Linked DNA regions of Homo sapiens. The protein of the gene in region 1 interacts with the protein of each later gene in a pairwise test. Each region holds a gene or a part of one and is shown on either strand. Other genes may lie near its edges.

Evidence for each region.
Region 2: the proteins of CLEC2D (region 1) and CLDN19 interact in binary tests that used the Homo sapiens proteins (3 or more experiments, as listed by UniProt).
Region 3: the proteins of CLEC2D (region 1) and ERMP1 interact in binary tests that used the Homo sapiens proteins (3 or more experiments, as listed by UniProt).

What each region holds. Positions count from the first base shown.
Region 1 is NC_000012.12:9,664,768-9,672,727, reverse strand, and holds the start of CLEC2D (C-type lectin domain family 2 member D), read right to left. Parts: upstream 3,016-7,960; 5' UTR 2,994-3,015; coding exon 2,933-2,993; intron 1-2,932. UniProt on the Homo sapiens protein: Receptor for KLRB1 that protects target cells against natural killer cell-mediated lysis. Inhibits osteoclast formation. Inhibits bone resorption. Modulates the release of interferon-gamma. Binds high molecular weight sulfated glycosaminoglycans.
Region 2 is NC_000001.11:42,732,593-42,737,266, forward strand, and holds the end of CLDN19 (claudin-19), read right to left. Parts: intron 3,439-4,674; coding exon 3,286-3,438; coding exon of another isoform or gene 3,170-3,285; exon of another isoform or gene 2,543-3,169; coding exon 2,494-2,542; 3' UTR 501-2,493; downstream 1-500. UniProt on the Homo sapiens protein: Forms paracellular channels: coassembles with CLDN16 into tight junction strands with cation-selective channels through the strands, conveying epithelial permeability in a process known as paracellular tight junction permeability.
Region 3 is NC_000009.12:5,830,118-5,836,987, forward strand, and holds the start of ERMP1 (endoplasmic reticulum metallopeptidase 1), read right to left. Parts: upstream 3,001-6,870; 5' UTR 2,911-3,000; coding exon 2,573-2,910; intron 912-2,572; coding exon 610-911; intron 1-609. UniProt on the Homo sapiens protein: Within the ovary, required for the organization of somatic cells and oocytes into discrete follicular structures.

The DNA of each region.
Region 1 (7,960 bases):
ATGTAAAAAGACCGAACCTACCACTGACTGGAGTACCTGAAAGAGACAGGGAGGATGGAACCAAGTTGGAAAACACACTTCAGGATATAATCCAGGAGAACTTCCCCAACCTAGCAAGACAGGCCAATATTCAAATTCAGGAAATCCAGAGAACCCCAATAAGATACTTCATGAGTAGATCAACCCCAAGACACATACTCCAAGGTCGAAATGGAAGAAAAAATATTAAGGGCAGCCAGGGAGAAAGGTCAGGTCACTGACAAAGGGAAGTCCATCAGATTATGAATTTTGAGTGCTACAATATGCCAATGTAGGTTATTAATTGTAATAAATGTACTGCTGGTGAAGAATGTTGATGTTAGAGACTGCTATGGTTTGAATGTGTCTCCAAAGTTCATGTGTTAGATACTTAATCCCCAATGCAATAGTGTTGAGAGGCAGGTCCTTTAAGAGGTAATCAGGTCATAATGTCCTTATAATGGGAGTGGGTTTACTATCACGAAAGTGGATTTGTTATAAAAGCAAGTTTGGTGCCTCTTGCTCTCTCTCTTTCTTATGCATGTGCTCTCTTGCCCTTCCAAATTTTGCCATGGGATGATGGAGCAAGATGTGTTTCTCAGTCTTGAACTTTCCAGCCTCCAGAACTATGAGCCAATAGATTTTGTTCATTATAAATTACCCAGTCTTGGGTATTCTGTAATAGCAGCACAAAACAGACTAAGACAGAGTCTATATATGTGTGGCAACAAGGAGAAAATGAAAAAAAAAACTACCTTTCTCACAATTTTGCTGTGATCCCAAAATGGCTCTAAAAATATGGTCTTTAAACAAAACAAAAAAGAGCAAAAGGAAAAAGGATATACTAGCAGCAGATCTTACAAGAATATCCAAATTTAAAGAGCCATCAAACCAGTGGTGAATTTAAATTTCCCTCCTCTAGTATCACTGCCCCGAACTTAATACAGCCAGAAACATGGAATTGAGCCTCTGTCAGCATAAAGAGAGGGCTCCAGGAGAAGCACTAGAGGTATGGTCTGAGGAACAGAAAAGCAAACTCCTATCTCAAATAGAGTGTGAAAATACCACGTTTATTTTTTCTCCCCCTCTTGTCTACATTCTCATGTGCCTCAAACCTCAGGCAATCTGATGATGGTAGGGGAAACTACAGCAACATGCAATAGCCAAAACCTTGAGAAAGGTTAATCCTCGGCCGGGCGCGGTGGCTCACGCCTGTAATCCCAGCAGTTTGGGAGGCCGAGGCGGGCGGATCACAAAGTCAGGAGATCGAGACCATCCTGGCTAACACGGTGAAACCCCGTCTCTACTAAAAATACAAAAAAGTAGCCGGGCGTGGTGGCGGGCGCCTGTAGTCCCAGCTACTCAGGAGGCTGAGGCAGAATGGCGTGAACCCAGGAGGCGGGGCTTGCAGTGAGCCGAGATCGCGCCACTGCACTCCAGCCTGGGGGACAGAGTGAGACTCCACCTCAAAAAAAGAAAAGAAATCTAAAGTCAATCCTTTCCATTCAGTTGAGCTGTAGCTCCATGAGAGTGGGGCCAAACCTCTTGCTTTTTTTTTCTTCTTTCTCACTGTCCGTCTGCCACATGAGCTTAAAGATGCAGCTATAATTGCAGAAGTATATGGTTCATCAGAATAAAAGGAGGCCCGCATTTCTAGCTGGAGGATGGAAAGGAGAAGCCCCTGGGAACCTGAAAGTACGGGTCAGATGGTGAAGAGGAAGAAACTTTAGAAAGAGACCCATGAACATTATTCATAAACTCCTGGATTCACCTGCCCCTCAACTTATGCATGCCTAGATATGGTTCTAATTGGCACACTAAAGATGCTAAGACCTGAACTAATGAGTAGAGCATTGCACAGTTCCCAATTTCACCCCTGGTTGATGCACATGTCTGAATAGCACTACAAAGGCTTTCAGAATGGAACTGACATTGGAACCAGATCCCACAGATTGTCTTCATCTCACCAGGGTGATTGCTTGCTAAAACAATAGTATCAATATACTCCAAAATTTAAATAAGATCCAGTCTAACTAAATATTTGTTCAAAATGTTCAAATTACAATCCAAAATTACACAGTATATGAAGAACCACGAAAATGTCAACTTCCATGGGGAAAGAAAACACAAGCCAAGGAGGACATGACAGAGATGTTGGAACTATCCGACAAACAGTTTAAAGCATTTGGTATAAAATGCTCAAAATACCCAATGAATGAAGAAATAAATGAAGTCATTTAACAACATTTAGAGTTCATCTTTTTCTGCCTCTGAATTACCTTTTCTCCAAATTGATTACCTTTTAAGTTGGGAGGAGAAAACTCCAAACTTTTAAGTCCTAAGTTATAAAACCTTGATATTCCCTAACTGTGGCAAAAGTCATTTTTTTCACTTACTAAAGCATCATATAAAGCTATATATATATATATTTCCAGTGCATCCAATGTAACATAATTCCATTAGAATGCCCTACTAAGTTTCTACTCAACCTTTGTTACTTTTTTGATTTGTAAATGTCCTTTACATACTATTTTCTACCTTTTCTCTCTTAAGAGCTTCCATGATAGGTTTTCTACCTATGTAATAATGATGGTATCTTGTATCTGAGTAACACTTTAGAGTTTGTATAGATTTTTTTTTAGTGAAATTAACTGTTATTTTCAATCCTAAACTTAACCTTATCTCATTGTCTTACATCTTTCTCTCATTGTTCCCTCTCCTTAGTTGTTAGAACTGGGAATATAAATATATGCATGTTTTACACAAATTATAAGCCAATTTATGGACTCCCACATTCCATCTCTTATCCTTGAAAACTTTTTACTAGATCAGCACCTTTCCTGTGTGAGCCCATCACTACCACTACCTTCCCATTCCAGTCCTCACACTTACTCTGTAGAGCCCAGCTTCTTACCTGGGTTTGCAGGCAATTCAGATGGTGTAATGTCTTTCTCCACATTGTTACTGTCATGCATTTTGCCTCCAGTTTCTATGAGTGATCTAAACCACAGTCTCTACGTTTTCAACCCCAAGAATGATTCAAAACAAAACAAAAAAAAAGCCCAACGACTAAAACGTGTAAGTGTGTAACCGCCCCAGTAACTCAAAATGTCAAGCCTTTAAGTTAAATATAGCTAGAGGAACAAATGAAGCATAAATTGTTTCAAAAATCAGCTCATCACAACAGAATAAACTGGTGTTTGTAAGAATTTTAAAAAGTTGAAGCTACTTCTCTAACAGTATTTTGGTTACGAAAGAAACTAATGTTTGATAACTTAAAATTTCTTTGACTATTAAAAATTATAATTGTATTTTGTGCGGTACAAAGCAATATTATGATAGAAAATAAGAATTTATTGAAAGGAAGGAGTTGGCTCTCAGAGGAAATGAATGTTAGGTAAGTAAAGACAACAGCAATTTTAATCTCAAATTAAAATTCATTCCCAAGAGTTTACGCTCATTCAAAAAATATCTTGTTTTCAATTTCTTCAAGATATTTTGGGAATTTGCTGCTATGGCTGCTACAACAACTTTTCAAAAATGGGCTTGAACGGTGTGCAGCTTCTGTGCTCCCTCTGGCATGATCCAGGAGCACAGAGGCTCTTTAGCAGCAAGAGCTTCTTGTCAGATGTGTTGATTTCTTGTATATAAATGCCAGTAAGGGCACCTTTTACTAAAATATAATTTATAGTAATGTGCACAAATCATAAGCATACAACTAAACACATTCATTAAAAATATAACATGTAACAAGTGCCTAGATGAAGTATATCTTAAAACCACGTAAAACAATACCAACACGCTATGTGCCCTACTCATGTCCTGCAACGCTCATTACCCCAAATACAATCTCTATCTTAACTCTGACAACATATTTTCCCTGCTTTTGAATTCTATACAGTAGCCCCCCTTACCTGTAAGAAATAAGTTCCAGATTGGACAGCTATTGCCTTTATCAAATAGAAATGAAGTTGCATTAGGACTGAGTTCCAGTTTCTGTAAGATTTTATATATCTTTTTCTTTACTATTTCATCATTTCTAGTTTGTCCTAGGACCTATGATAAAGCCTTCTAGTAATTCCATCTGAGAACCTGCTTTTTATCAAAGCTGCTTCTCTTTCTTGGAAGTTGAATTTGGTTTTGTCTCCTGAACAACATGTGATTGCCAAAAGTTCAAGTCTGTTTTTCACATAGTTCTTCCTAACCTCCTTTCCTGTGAAATTTAATAATTTGAAAATTGCTTGAGAGAAAAATTTTTCTCATTTCTTTGGCCCTCTCTCCTCTCTGGGGGTTTTGGTCCTTCAAGTGCTTTAGGAAGAGATTTTTCTCTCCCCCAAAAAAATGCCTGGTATCCACAGCCCTCTCCCCAGAATCTCAGCATCTGACCCACTGCCAAGATGCCCCTAAGAGAAGGGTGGCTCCTGGAATGCTGACTCACTTCTCTGTGGCCCCTTTCCAGAATCTTCGTTCTGCCTCCAGTTGCCTTGAACACTCTCTAATATCTTAATGAAATCCTTTTTCTTCAATTCTAACTCTTCTAGTTGTTCTCAGCATGAGTTTGATGTCTCTCCAGTTATATTATCATACACAGAAGTGGATATGAACTGTCAGGCTTATCCCTTTTATATCCTTTTATAATTTCATTGTTAGCTTAAAGGGGACAAAAGGTAAACCCTGATAAATTGAGATTTCCACACTTATCTTGGAATTTCCACACTAATCATCTTGGAATTTCCACACTAATCTTGGACCTTCCAGTGAAACTACTATTACTTTTACTGTTACTAGCCTGGCATGACAACATGCCAGGTTATTACTGCTTACTATGCTCCATACACATTAATATGAGATTTAAATATGTGTTCTTATTTAATTGGCATAACTAACTAATGAGGCTGATATTACCTTTATTTTTCAGATGATTTTGGGTGAGGGACTAACTAATATGTCTAAGTTCACAGTAAGCTATAGAACCCATGACTGACAGATCTGATATGAAAACTACTTTAAAGGTCAAATATCAAATGACATGGTATTTGTGAGTTAGTCACATCATTTATTCATATCAATCTCTTGGTTTCTACGTTGCTGTAAGTTTCTCCTTATGTGGAAACTAAACTGAAAGTAAGTTCATGAAGTCCTAAAGATGTACATAATCATTTACCCTTTAACAAATATTTTCAAACTTAACATCTTTCAGCCAGCACGCCAGGTGGACTTTGAGGGTAATGTCCCTTTCTTTAAGGAAGTTAATATGAAACTGAAAAATAAGTAGGTATACATGACTTATTGTAACAAGATGTGAATGGCAGTAGAATAATTTATTAGGAGAGCAGTTAATGAGGGCACTTAACCCAGAAGAAGTTTTCCCAAGAAAGTACCAATCAAATGAGCTGGAGTTAGTTAAATAAAGTGAGGCATTTAGGCCAGGCATGGTGGCTTATACCTGCAATCCCAGCACTTTGGGAGGCCAAGGCGGGTGGATCACCTGAGGTCAGGAGTTCAAGATCAGCCTGACCAACATGGTGAAATCCTATCTCTACTAAAAATACAAAAATTAGCTGGGCATGGTGGCTTGCACCTGTAGTCCTAGCTACTTGGGAGGCTGAGGCAGGAGAATTGCTTGAATCCTAGAGGCAGAGGTTGCAGTGAGCCAAGGTTGCACCACGTGGGCGACAGAATGAGACTCTGTCTCAAAATAAATAAATACATACATCCTGGCTAACACAGTGAAACCCTGTCTCTACTAAAAATACAAAAAATTAGCCGGGCACGGTGGCAGGCGCCTGTGGTCCCAGCTATTCGGGAGGCTGAGGCAGGAGAATGGCATGAACCCAGGAGGCAGAGCTTGCAGTGAGCCGAGATAGTGCCATTGCAGTCCAGCCTGGGCGAAACAGCGAGACTCCGTCTCAAAACAATAAATAAATAAATAAATTAATTAATTAAAAAAAATAAAGTGAGGCATTTGAGGTGGAGGAAGAAGTCTTCCAGTTGAAGAAAGTCTTCTAGTTTCTTTAGTTAGGCCCAGAGAGAAGAGAATATATCTCAGAGTTGGGAAAACACCTGAAATCTGAGAGAGCTGGAGCATAAATTATGAAAGGAGAAATGTGACAAAATAACTCTCCAATTATCACAAGAGCTTTATATTAAACTATGTGAATCTCATGACTTCTAAGCCATATCGTCGTGCTTACTTTCTTATGCAACCTTGTGTTAAATAGCTGATACCACACATAAGATACCACACATAAGATACAGTGATGTGCATTTACACTGTCCTTAGAGAATTCCAGTGTGAGGAAAAGAAGTACACATACAGAGTAATTTTAATTTCATTTAGAAAATAAATTTTTTTCAAAATATAATTTTTTAGTTGAGTCTATATTAGAAGGCAGAAATTAATGACTAATTGACCGGATATAAAAGGAAAGAAAAAAGCCCCTTCAAAGTGCCCATTACTCTTCAATAGATGTGAGTGTCTCAACTAAGTAGTATAAAAGCAATATATTATCAGATTTTGCTTCATTGGAATAGCTGACTGATAAAAAGTTACAAGAAAGAACAAAAGTTTATAAAAATTATTTATTCTCAATGACCTGTATCCCACTTTTCTTGGGTTTTTGTGTTTGTGACAGCATGATGGATGGTAATGATATTGAATAAGTGAGGGATATAAAAGGCAGTGTATTATGATGTAAAAGAACACAGCTGGCAGGGTGTGGTGGCTCACACCTATAATCCCAGCACTTTGGGAGGCCGAGGCAGGTGGATCACCTCAGGTCCGGAGTTGGAGACCAGCCTGGCCAACATGGCAAAACCTTGTCTCTACTAAAAATACAAAAACTAGCTGGGCGTGGTGGTGCGCACCTGTAATCCCAACTACTTGGGAGGCTGAGGCTGGAGAATCACTTGAACCCAGGAGGCGGAGGTTGCAGTGAGCCGAGATTGTGCCACTGCACTCCTGCCTGGGCAACAGTGAGAGTCCATCTCAAAAAATAAAAATAAAAAAAATAAAAAAAGAACACAGCCTTTGGGGCAAAACAAGCTCAATTCATATATGACTTTTGTAGCCTGATAGTTAATTTTAAATGTATGTGGAAAGCAGAATAATGACCCCCTAAAGACATTAATAAGCTAATTCCCAAAACCTTGAGGTAAGGATGTTATTTTACATGACAAAAGACATTTTGCACATATGGTTAAGGGTCTAAAGACAGAGGGATTATTTTGGATAATCCAGGTGGGCCTAATCTAATCACATGGGTCTTTATTAGGGGAAGGCAGGAATGTCACTGTCAGAGAGAGATTTGAAGGTGCTGTGCTGCTGGCTTTAAAGCTGTAGCAAGGGACCATAAGCTAAGGAATGCAGGTGGCCTCTGGAAGCTGAAAAAGGCAAGGAAACGGCTTCTTCCCTAGAGCCTCCAAAAGAAATGCAGCCCTATCAGTGGCACCCTGACTTTAGCCATTTTGAACCTCTCATTTCTAGACAGTAAAATAATAATTTGTGTTGTTTTTAATCCACTTGTCTTAGTTCATGTGCCTGTAACAAAATACCATAAAATGGGTAACTTATAAACAACAGAAATTTATTTCTCACAGTTCAGGAGGCTGGAAGTCCAAGATCAGAGTGCTGGCAGATTTGGTGCCTGGTAAGGGCCCACTTTCTGGTTCATTGATGGTAACTTCTAGATGTGTCCTCACATAGTAGAAGGAACAAGGCAGCTTTGGTGGGCCCCTTTTGTAAGGGCACTAATCCCATTCATCGGTATTCTACCCTCATGACTTAATGACCTCACAAAGGTTTCATCTCCTAATGCCATCACCTTGGGAGTCAGGATTTCAACATGTGAATTTGGGAGTGGGAGATACAAATATTGAGATCATAGCACCCCTAGTTTATGGTAATTTATTATTACACAATAATTATAGCATATTGATTAAA
Region 2 (4,674 bases), on another chromosome or scaffold:
CAAATCCTGTTAGGTAGGGCTCTTCTGGCTGTGTGGGACAGGATTCAAACTCAACGTTTTTTCAGCCAAAAGGGGAATTGATTGGGAAGATGTGGGCGTGTCACAGAACAGCCTGGTATTGGGAAAGGCAGGAGTGAGTGGGGCTTCCTCTCCCCACCTCTTTTCTTTCTTTCTTTTTTGAGATGGAGTCTTGCTCTGTTGCCCAGGCTGGAGTGCAGTGGCACAATCTTGGCTCACTGCAGCTTTCGCCTCCTGAGTTCAAGCAATTCTCCTGCCTCAGCCTCCCGAGTAGCTGGGATTACAGGTGCCCACCACCACAGCCGGCTAATTTTTGTATTTTTTAAAAATAGAGACAGGGTTTCACCATGTTGGCCAGGCTGGTCTCGAACTCCTGACCTTGTGACCCACCCACCTCAGCCTCCCAAAGTGTTGGGATTACAGGCATGAGCCGCCACGCCCGGCTACCCACCTCTTTTCTTTTCTTTTTTTTTTTTTTTTTTGTGATGGAGTCTTGCTCTGTCATCCAGGATGGTGTGCAGTGGCACGATCTTGGCTGACTGCAACCTCCACCTCCCGAGTTCAAGCGATTCTCCTGCCTCAGCCTCCCGAGTAGCTGGGATTACAGGTGCCCACCACCACAGCCAGCTAATTTTTGTATTTTTAATAGACACGGGGTTTTACCATATTGGCCAGGCTAGTCTCGAACTCCTGACTTCAGGTATCTACCCACCTCGGCCTCCCAAAGTGCTGGGATTACAAGCGTGAGCCACCGTGCCTGACCTCCACCTCTTCCCTTGTGGGTTCTTTTCTCCCTCTGCAGACCTCACAGAGTCACCTGGGCTTGAGGCCTCATAGAGGAGCCCTCAGTGCTGACCACACACTACAGTCCCCTGAGGAGCTACATGACTTCTGATGCCAGGTCCACCCAGACCAATGAAATAAGAGTGTCTGGGGTTGGAGCCTAGGCATTGTGCCCCCAGGTGATTCGAATGTGCATGCAGGGTTGGGAACCATTGCACTATAGCTTCAGGCACCCAGAGGAGAAACTCCTGCAGTTCTCATTCATTAGAGGGGCAGGACTCTGGGGAACCTATTTAGGGTCAGGTGGCCACATCCTCTGACCAGAGGCTGGACAAGTCCCTGTTGTGCCCCGGTGGATGTGCAGCACCGGCCAGGCCAGGCGCCGAGGGGTCAGTCCCCCAGCAGCTCCCTGCCATTTGTGTCATTCCTCCCCTCCCTGCCCTTGACTGCAGTGTACATGGCAGTCATCTCATCTGACTTGGTTTCCGTCACTTTCCCTCTCAGAGTCAAGCTCGAAGGAGAAGCTGAGCTGCGTTCTTGAGATCTGGGGACGTGGTGGGAGATGTGGTCACAAGGCAGGTGGTGGAGGAGGCCAGAATGGAGCTGGCCAAGGAAGGTGCGTGGCAGGGAAGGGGAGGTTCTGTGATGGATGCTTTCCCCAGAAGCCTGATACGCAGTGGCCAGGGAGACTGAGTCCCGGGAGAGGGTTTGGGGTGGGAGAGGTCTGAGCATGAGGGGCAGGGCACACTCTGGTTCAGGGAGATGTAGGACAAAGGACTCTGGCCTTGGGACTGATCTGGGCTGGTTTCCTTACATTCCTCTCAGGCCCTTCCCCCTGTATGCTAAGGGGGGATGGTACCTGGACTTCAAGACCAAAAGCCCTTCTCTGACCGCACTGCTGAGTGCAGCAGGCAGCTCCACCCACAGTCTCTGGGCAGCCCCAGGCTGTCCCCTCCCCACTCTGATTCTAGGACAAAGACCTTGGACCTCAGCTGGATGCTGGGGATCAGGAGAGGAGGAATGGTAGGTGTGGAAACAAGGGGCAGGATTCGGGGTGAGCAGAGCTGGGGGCTGCAGACCTTGCTCAGGACAGTCCTAATGCCTGCAAGCTCCTAACGCCCTCCCCACATTCCCTTTTCTACATGGGGAGCTCCTACACTGTGTCCCCTCACCTATCGCTGATCCCCAGCATCCAGCTGGAGGGCCTTCCAGGAACTGTCCCTTCCCTTAGGAGGTCTCTGGAGCACAGTAACAGGGGCAGGGTTTACTACCTTGGGGCCTCTTTCCACACCAGGGGCTCCCTGACCCTGGGGACTGCTCCTAGAGCTGGGCCAAGCCTCAGGGGCAGCCTCCAGGAGTGAGTGGGATCTCCTATCAAGGAGGACTTTGTGCCAAGGCCAAGGCCAGGCTTGGGAGGGGGGTCCCTAGACAGAGGGTAGGACCTCTGAATTATTTCTTGCTTAGCCCTGGATGTGCTATGTAACCCACCCTGGACCTCTGTCTCCTCATCTTTCTGCCCAAGAGCCCCAGGGGTCAGCACTGACCACTCTGACACAGGCCCCGTCCAAGCCACGCTGAGGACAGACCGAATGATACCATGATTGGGGCTGGATGTTCACTTCTCTTTCCAAAAAAATATGAAACACACAGTCTAGGTATGGCAGGGGACAGAGCCTGGCTGGGGACTGGACATTACACACCCAGGGGGCCCTTGGCGGAGGCGGGCAATTTAACAACTGGTCTGAAAGTCAAAAGAGAGAGAGCTGGTTAGTGGAGTGAGCTGTGGGGTCGGGGGCAGGGGCTGTGCATTCAGGCCCGGACATGGGTACTGGCCAGCGTGGCCAGACCTTGGCCCTCACAGCAGCCCTGCCTGGGGCCCATTCCCGGGGGCAGGGGCGCCATGGTCCGACCTCACCATCTGTGTAGGTGGCCCCCAGCCCTGGGCGCACTGGAAGAACCTGAGACCTAAACTCAGACCCTCCCTGTCCTTGTGTGAACGTTCAGCATCCCGGCACTGCCCTTGTGGGGTTGCTGTGAGGAGCCCATGGGACTGGGGAGGGTGAAGGTTTCTGCTCACCCCAAGGACCTGGGTACTAAGGTACGTCTTGGCCACTGCTCTATCTCTAGGGCCCAGCACGTAGCAGACACCCAAGCAGCTCTTCAGTGAGTAAACAGCCGGGCTGGTGCCTGAGGGCCTGTCTCCAGGGATGCATGCTGGTGCCCACCAGGCTGTGCAGACAAGACCGTGCCTGGACCTGCATCTGTGTGTATGCCTGGGGGCTGGGTCCTGCCTCTGGTGTCTCTCTGAGGATCTGGGTCTCAGATTGCAGGGTGGGTGCTTGTGTTGAGGACAAGCTGCTCAGAGCACCTATGCCCATCCTATGCCCCAGTGGCCCTGCCCAGGGTGCTGCGAGGCTGGCTGGATGCTGGGCAAGGGGGCCACTGGGTGGGGGGCTGGCCAGGGCAGGCGGAGCTCAGACGTACTCTCGGGCAGCAGCAGAGGGTCCAGGCCGATAGGGCTGTGGGCTGCTGTTGGGTCTCTCTGGCTCCGGGCATGTGCAGCAGAGGAAGGAGCCGCCCAGCACGGCCAGGCCAGCTGAGGCCCAGCCCACGAACAGGGCTGGGCCAAATTCATACCTGCAAGGGGTAGGGAGAGTGGCATCAGGTGTGGCTGCCGTCTCAGGTTGTTCCCAGTCCCTGCCCTGGCAGAGGAAGGGCAGAGTGTGTGGAGCTGGAGGCTGGAGCCTCACAACCTCTTCCATATCTCCAGATAAATTGAGGTGAATGCTCTTCCTTTCTCCCTCCCCCCCAGCCCAGAATATCAACACCACACAGGGTGACCCGGCCTGGGGTAGGCGTGAAGGCTAGAGGCTGGGCCTCCAGCTCCTGCTCTGAGCAACCTTGGGCTCATTTCCTGATCTGGCCAGTGGAGGGGGCATGGGAGGGCCTGAGAGGTCTGCACGGGAGGAGTGGGGCAATCCCTGCCATGTTTTTTCCCAGTCACATTCTGGCCCACAGAACTCCCAGCCAAGACTGCTCCCGCTGCCCTCTGGAGAAGGCCAGACCCTTCCACCTGGCACTCTGGGCTCTCCACACCCAGACCCTGCTGGCCAGGCCAGCCCTGCTCCTGGTTCTCACTGCCTTGGTGCCTTTGCACAAGGCACCCCCAGCTGGGGCACCAAGCCCCCCAGCCCACCACTCCTGTGCCTCCCCTGTTCCTTCTCTGCCTTCAGAGCCCAGTTCAGATGCCACCTCTTCGTGGGGTCTTTCCTTGACATCCTCTGTGTTCACCCCGCCCCTTGCGCCGACTCCACTACCATGCTTTCTCCAGGAGGCCTCAGCCCCTTGCTTGTCCGGCTCCCTGGGAAGCCCCTTGAGGGCAGACAGAGCCATCAGTGTCCCCAGGACCCAGCACAGGGCCTGGCAGCCCAAGTGGCATTGGGGACTGTTGAAGGGATCGGGGGCCGAGTCCTATCCTGACATGCCTGAGCTGGACCTTGCTTGGCAGACTTTGTGGCTGCAGCCACCACCCAGGGAACAAACCTTGTACCTGAGATCTCCTCCCTCCCCTTGCCTCTCAACACCTCTGCCTCCTCCAGGCATCCCTCCCGATTGCAAAAGCCCAGACATCTTTTCTCATCCTCTCTCCACCCCAAGGCCCAAAGCCCATTGGGATGTCTAGGGTTAAGACTGTCCCATTCTCTGCTCCTGGCTAGGCTGAGAAGTGAGGGAGGAGCCAAGGTGGGCCCAGGCCCTTTGCAGAGCATCCCCTTCAGTTCCCATGCCCACAGTCTTACAAGTCCTGGTTATCTCCTGAATATCAGCCTGCTTTCCACTGCTCCCTCCCTGTTGCCCCAAACTCTCTGCTCAGAC
Region 3 (6,870 bases), on another chromosome or scaffold:
ATCCGCCAACCCGCAGCCCAGGACAGCTTTGAATGCAGCCCAATACAAATTTGTAAACTTTCTTAAAACATGAGTTTTTTTTTTTAAGCTCATCAGCCATCATTAGTGTATATTATGTGTGGCCCATGACAATTCTTCTTCTTCCAATGTGGCCCAGGGCAGCCAAAAGATTGGACACCCCTGCTCTAAAACCATGCAGTAACCCTTGAAGGCAGGGACTGTCCTTATGTGGTATCCCCAAAGCCTAGTATAACACCCAGCTGAGTAAAACACTTTCTAAGTGTCAGAACCTAACTCCAGGACACTAGGACACACACACTGTCTGGTAACATTGAGAAAGCTGCTTCAGTCTACCAGAAACATTCCAAGTCTTATCACTGGGCTGCTGGCATTAACACCAAAAAATAATATTAATAAAGCACTTAAGAGAAGACAGAATGGTTAGATCCTAAACTAAATGATACTATCCTAATTATCCTGCTTTCCATCACAAAGAAAAAAGGTTTGCCCAAGAAAATGGTCCCCACAATTGCCCAAGTAGCTTGGGGTTATGTTAATAAACTTTCTGGGCTGTGACAAGTTCCAAATGACTAAAAAACAGGTACATACCTGGTGAGTTTGCTACTGAGTCAAAATGACAATTAGCCAAGACAGCATGCTGGGCTCCATCTCTGGGTTCCAGCTTTACCACAACATTGGTGATGTTGTCATAATAGCTTGTAAAACCTCCCAAGAAATCAATGCTAAAAGAGCCTGTGGGCCGTTGTACATCTACTGAAATCTTATGAAGGCTGTTGCTTTGCACTTCAATCAGTTTAATCTGTTCCAAAAGGTAGTGCACGGTCAGAATTTCATTTTCTGGACTTCCTGTAGTCCTGGGGCCAATGGAGGTTATGTGTTCAAGATAATCCCTGGAAGTAACCAAAAGAATAACAAAGGTTTGTAGTTAAAATTGACACTTAGCGTGGGTAACTTTTCCACTACACACCCCTTCCTCCCCAAAAAAGCTTAGTTCTTTGCCTTATATAAAAGGGACCGCCTTTCATTATTTCAGACACCAAGTGAACATCACTTATAAAGTTCCATATTTTTATTGTTGCCTCCCACGAGTTGACCCCTTCAGTTTTCTCCACCATCCCACTCCCAACTTCTCCCCATATCAAACCAATACAAGGACTAGGGATGTATTCAAAACGTGTGACCACTGGCCAGGCACGGTGGCTCACGCCTGTAATCCCAGGACTTTCGGAGGCTGAGGTGGGTGGATTGCTTGAGCTCAGGAGTTTGAGACCAGCCTGGGCAACATGGTGAAACCCCATCTCTTCTAAAACTACAAAAACTAGCCAGATGTAGACTACTATCCGCCTGTAGTCCCAGCTACTCAAGAGGCTGAGGTGGGAGGACTGCTTGAACCTGGGAGGTGGAGGCTACAGACCCGAGATGGAGCCACTGCACTCCAGCCTGGGCGACAGAGCCAGGCCCTGTCTCAGAAAACAAACAAAAAAAGCTAAAGACTAAGCAGGATAGAATATAACTTCACTGTGCATACTCCTGAACGTTACAGATTCTGGGTTAATGACTTTAAGTAGCAGAAACCAATGAGCAAAAATAATCAAGTCAAGAGGTTAAATAAGGCGGGCGGGGGAAACTTTTGATGGACCTAGCCCTCCTAGCATACACCCAAGGTCTAATAACTTCAATTCAGGCCAAAACCAACTGTACCCCTAATGAAAACAAAACTGTTTTTGTCTTTTCACTGCATTCCAAGTGGGGAAAGCTGGAAGTGGGGGTGGGAGACGTTTCAGAAAGTCCTTAATAAGCTTGCAACACTTTGCATTCTAGCAAAAACTTTTTAGAACACAGTAGCTGTTGAAAACTTGACGCCAGCTTAACACTTCATGAGCTTTGACACACCTGGGTTACAATATCTTTGACTTAATCACCTTTCCTAGCATTCTTAAAGGTCTTAAAAAAAAAAAAAAAAGTCAAACCTTACACAGTCACTAATCCAAGGGGCCTAAAGATAAACTGCAGGGATCTGAGAATTTATCAGACTGCATACCAAATTTTGACTGGGCGGTGTTCCAGAAAGAGTTTCTATAGCCTTCAGATGTGGGGGCTGTAACCCTCAGAAAGTTAGAACAGTGCACTAGCGCCTTCCAAAACTCCCCGCCCCCAAAGCGAATTTATACAACAGTCTAGGTACACAAATTTCCATCTGGAAAGCAGAAGGGCTAAGCAAGGTAAAAAGGGGAAGCTGTTCCAGAATATGGGGAGACGACTCACAACCAACCATCTGCACGAAGGGCAGACAGTGGAAAGCAGGTTCAATCTACCTGGCAACCCCAATCTGCACCACGAGCTTAACCGGGGACAGGCAAGCCCCAAGTCCCGGCAATTCAGACCCCAGAAGAAGGACAAGCAAGGTCACCCCACCCCACGTGCAGCCTGGGAGGGGTCAGCGAGTCCCAGCGGTCCGGCAGGGGCGGGTGCACACAGGTGCGGTGCCCCGGAGCCTGCGCAGGAGCCGCAAACGGACGCGCGGGCCGTGCCAGGAGGGAGCGGCCGGTACCTGGCTTGGAGCGCGTCGAACTCCCCGCGGTGTCCAGCGGCCCCGCGTAGCACGAGCTGCTGCAGCGAGAGCTGCACCAGCGTCCGCAGCGCGATCAGGTAGAGCGCGAGCCCCAGCGCGGCGCGCACCTCAGACAGCCCGGTCCCCGCGCCCCTGCTCGCGCCGCCGCTACCCCCGGGGCTCCTCTTCCGCGTCCTCCCGCCGCCGCTGCACCCATCCACCAGAGGCTCCTGCGCTCGGGCCTCCCTCTCCGGCGGTGGCGCGGCCGCCGCTCCCTCTCGACGCTCTACTCCGACGCGGTGCCGCCTCACAGCAGCCGACTCAGAACCCCACTCCATGGCCACGAGCCTCAGCTGCCAGCCCAACCGCCCCAACCCGCGACAGCCCCGGCCGCCGCCGACGCCGCCGTCGCTGCCGCAGCGCCTCCTAGTGAGCGGACGGAAACTGCAGAGGGCCAAACTTCTTCTGATTGGCCCGTCCCGCCGCGCCAAGACCCAGCTTCTTTGGCAGTTCTCGGGTGCACACAGCTGCAGGGCCGACCCAGCAGCGGGTGGTGGATATGCCGTCTCCCGCAGGGCTTTTCCAGCCCTCTGTAGGACGGAGATTGCCAAATGTAAAGACACCTAAAAACCCAAAACGAGAAAAATGAGAGATCGCTTTTGAAAGAACACACAAGGCTCTTACAGTGCATCAGGCAGATGAAAAAAGCAATGACCTGGCTTTCGTAAGGAAGGAATATTAGAACATCAGGCTCCAAAAAAGTGGGTTCCTGGCTCTTAAAATTAGAAATAAGATTACGCAGAGGAGGCCCGGCCTATTGCTTTCACATGCATAATCTAATCAGATCTTCATAACTCAGCAACTTAATCTGTGCTATTACTGTCTCCATTTAACAGATAAAGAAAAATAATGGCTATTATTTATTGAATACCTGCTATGAGCTAAGCGCTAGGTCAAGTCCTTTAATACATCATCTTATTTAATTATCTTTAACAATACTTAAAAGGAAATATCTTTGTTCCCATTTTATAACCTGAGAAACGTAGAGATAACAGATGAAGAATGTAAATCTAATTTCATGGGCTCCCAAAACAGCATTCTGTTCCACTACTACATTAGCACTCTGCAAGTGAAGGTTCAGAAAGGCCATTCTTCACTTGACGACTCTCTGGGGCGGTTAAGCAGCAGAGCCTTGGTTTCAGTGCAGATCCTAGTGATTATCTAGTCTTCTTCCAGCTTGCCGGTACCCATGAGCCTCTCTGCTCCAAGGTTTTTTGTCCCTAGCTTGGAGTTGCTACATTAGCATGAGCATTAACCTAGAGACCAACTGGGAGAGCACACTGCCGGATTTTGACTTAGCACATATGTCAGATTTCATACAATGCCCTATAGTCCTGCTCTTGCCCACCTCTCAGGCTCCTCTGACACCAGGATGCTTCTTATTTCCAGCTCTCCAGCCACACTGGCCTCTTTCAAAGACTTCCTGCACGCATCTTTCCTTCTACAATAGGATCTTCTCACATGCTGTTTGAATTACCTGGAGTGTTCTTCTCTCTCCTCATTGTCTTTTTAACTCCTAGTTATCCTTTAAATCTCAGATTAAGTGGTACTTCCTCAAGCAAGAATCTCCTAATTTAATTAAGCTTGCTTCCCCTATTTGTAGGATCTCACAGCACCATGTTTGCATGTGACTATTTCATAACTTCCTCATTAGACTGTAAGCCCCACGAAGGCAGGAATCAGGTCTGGTTTTACTCACCATTTTATTCCTTGCTCTTAACACAAAGCATGACACATAGTATGTAGTCAATAGATATTTCTTGAGTGAATGAAAAAATGAAAACATACCACTTTTGTGGCAGCAAGCATAATTTTAGCTCTACAAGATCCCTTTCAGTCTGTAAGCACTATGAGACTAAAGACAGTGTCTATCTTATTTAATCATCACTGTATCCATAGTGCTTAGCTCTGGATAAGAGCCTAGCCCATGGTCATAACTATATGTATGTATATATGTGTGTGTGTGTGTGTGTGTGTGTGTGTGTGTGTGTGTGTGTATGTCTGACAATATCCCATGGTACCATAATAGGGAAATGCCTGGCTGCCTGGCTGTTGGGGACGGGTAGATCTGAGTTCCTGGATCTGGTACCTTTAGTACACATGGCATTATTCAAGTTACAATCTCACAGAGTCCACGTGTATTTATCTGTGGTAATGCAGATGATACCTGCCTTAAGGGGCTTCAGTGAGGATTAGATAGATAGACAGATGATAGATGGATAGATAGATGTGTGTGTGTGTGTGTGTGTGTGTGTGTGTGTGTGTGTGTGTGTGTGAAAGATCCTCACATAAGATTCTCATTAAAAACTATTTTTCAGAATTTTCCTTCTCATGAAATCCTTTGTAGATTAGATTAAAAGCTACTTTCCTATCATGATAATCATAGAACTCTAGGTGGTAGGAGTTAAGTTACAGCTGAGTTCCTGAAAGGCAGTTTTTCTCTATACTTGTATAGTCTACGGTATTCACGTTTGAATATTTTTAGCTACTAGTTGTTGGATATCTACTTGTGTCAGATACTGATTAAGGTGGAGAAACAGAGAAGAACAAATCAATGTTTCTACCTTCAGAGAGCTTACATTCTAACAAAGAGACAATGAACGCGCGCGCGCATGTGTGTGTGTGTATAAAATGTCAGAGAGTTAAGTGCCATAAAGAAAAATAAAGCAGGGAAATTGAGACTGACAAAAGCTGCTGTTTTATTAGGGTGATCAGAGATGGTCTCACAGTCTCTCTGAGAAGATGACATTTGAGGTGACCTGAATGAAGTGAGGAACAGGGCCACATAAGCCTGGGGAGAGAATGTTCCAGCAGAGGAAAGTGAGCTGGGATGTTCAGAGGCAACGTCGAATAAGGCATGCACTAAAGCAGACTGAGCCAGGAGCCCTGGTAGATGTGAGGTGACAGAGGTGGGTAGGAGCCAGTGCAAGGAAGGCCTCCTGGCCCTGGTGAGGACTCTGGGGTGGTTTTGAGCAGTGAAAGGTCATGCTTTAGGTGATGTTATATAAGATCACTCAGTCTCCATCCCAGGCAGAGCAGCACAGTGACCACATCTAGAACATATAGGCTTATAAAACACTTTGATAATGTCTGGTCTTTGAAGTGTTCAAAGCCAGTTTGATCTATAATTTTATTTGTGTTAAAAGTAGACCACAGTGAATTGGAACACATGCTCTAGTTCTCACATATCAAATCCCTGATAAGGATGAGGAACAGATAAATGTGAAAGGTTGTGGCTGCCCCGTCTGGTGAGCTATTGATCATGGGGTTGAGTCAACTCATCTGACTTGGCAGGCAGTTATGCTTGTGTCTCCCTTTATGACAAAGTAAGAGCTAAACTGACTGACAGACATAGAGATGTCCCATGTCCCTTCTGTCTTGCCATCTTTTCAGTATTTCCTAGTAGTTTGGCCAAGGTAAGTGGAAGGACATATGAGCTGTCAGGATTCAGGTGAACTGCCAGTTTCTGTCTTCCCCACAGGTCATTCCATAGCCAATTTGCCGTAGAAGAAAACCATAGCCTGTGTACTTTCTTCCTTGGAAGAGAGGCTACCAGTGTATCTGGTGAAGTTCTCTGAGGCTCAGGCTAGCAGAAGGATGCCTTTTACATGATGTTACAGTGACATTCAAATCAGGTGAGGTACCAAGCCAAGAGATGAGAAGTGAGCCCAAACCAGTTGCAGAAAAAAGAAGCAGTTGTCAAAAGCTGACAGGCAGAGCAAGTCAAAACCAAGTGCAAGGATTCCAAACGTGGAAGAGTTTATGGGTAAATGTAGCTAGGTGCTGTTGCGGATAGCTTGGTTTTCTGTGCTCACTGAGGTGGTATGAGAGTGAACCAGCTTTGTTTAAAGGTTCAGGGTACACCATCAGTTTTTTTAGGTTTTTGTTTGTTTGTTTGTTTAGATCCCTTAAGGCTAAAGCTTGGGCGTCAGGGTGCTGTTGGACAATTGATCTTTCCAACTCTGAAGCTCTGAAATGGAACATTCAGGAACTGGTGACAATGGTCAGCTCCACGGATCACCTCCAACAAGCCAGGAAACCTGGGGGCTGACAGTGCTGGCAAGAAAGGGCATTCTAAAAGGCACATGAGCCAGATCTGTAAATCTTCAGAGCTTTTCTACCCCCATGAGCTTAACGGGCCTTGGAGCCTAGGGAGAGGGTAATTGCACTCTACTTTTAACCCCCCCTCAAATTCTGGGCTGGTCCCCTGTGTTTTCTACGTCCCTGTATCTAGGTAG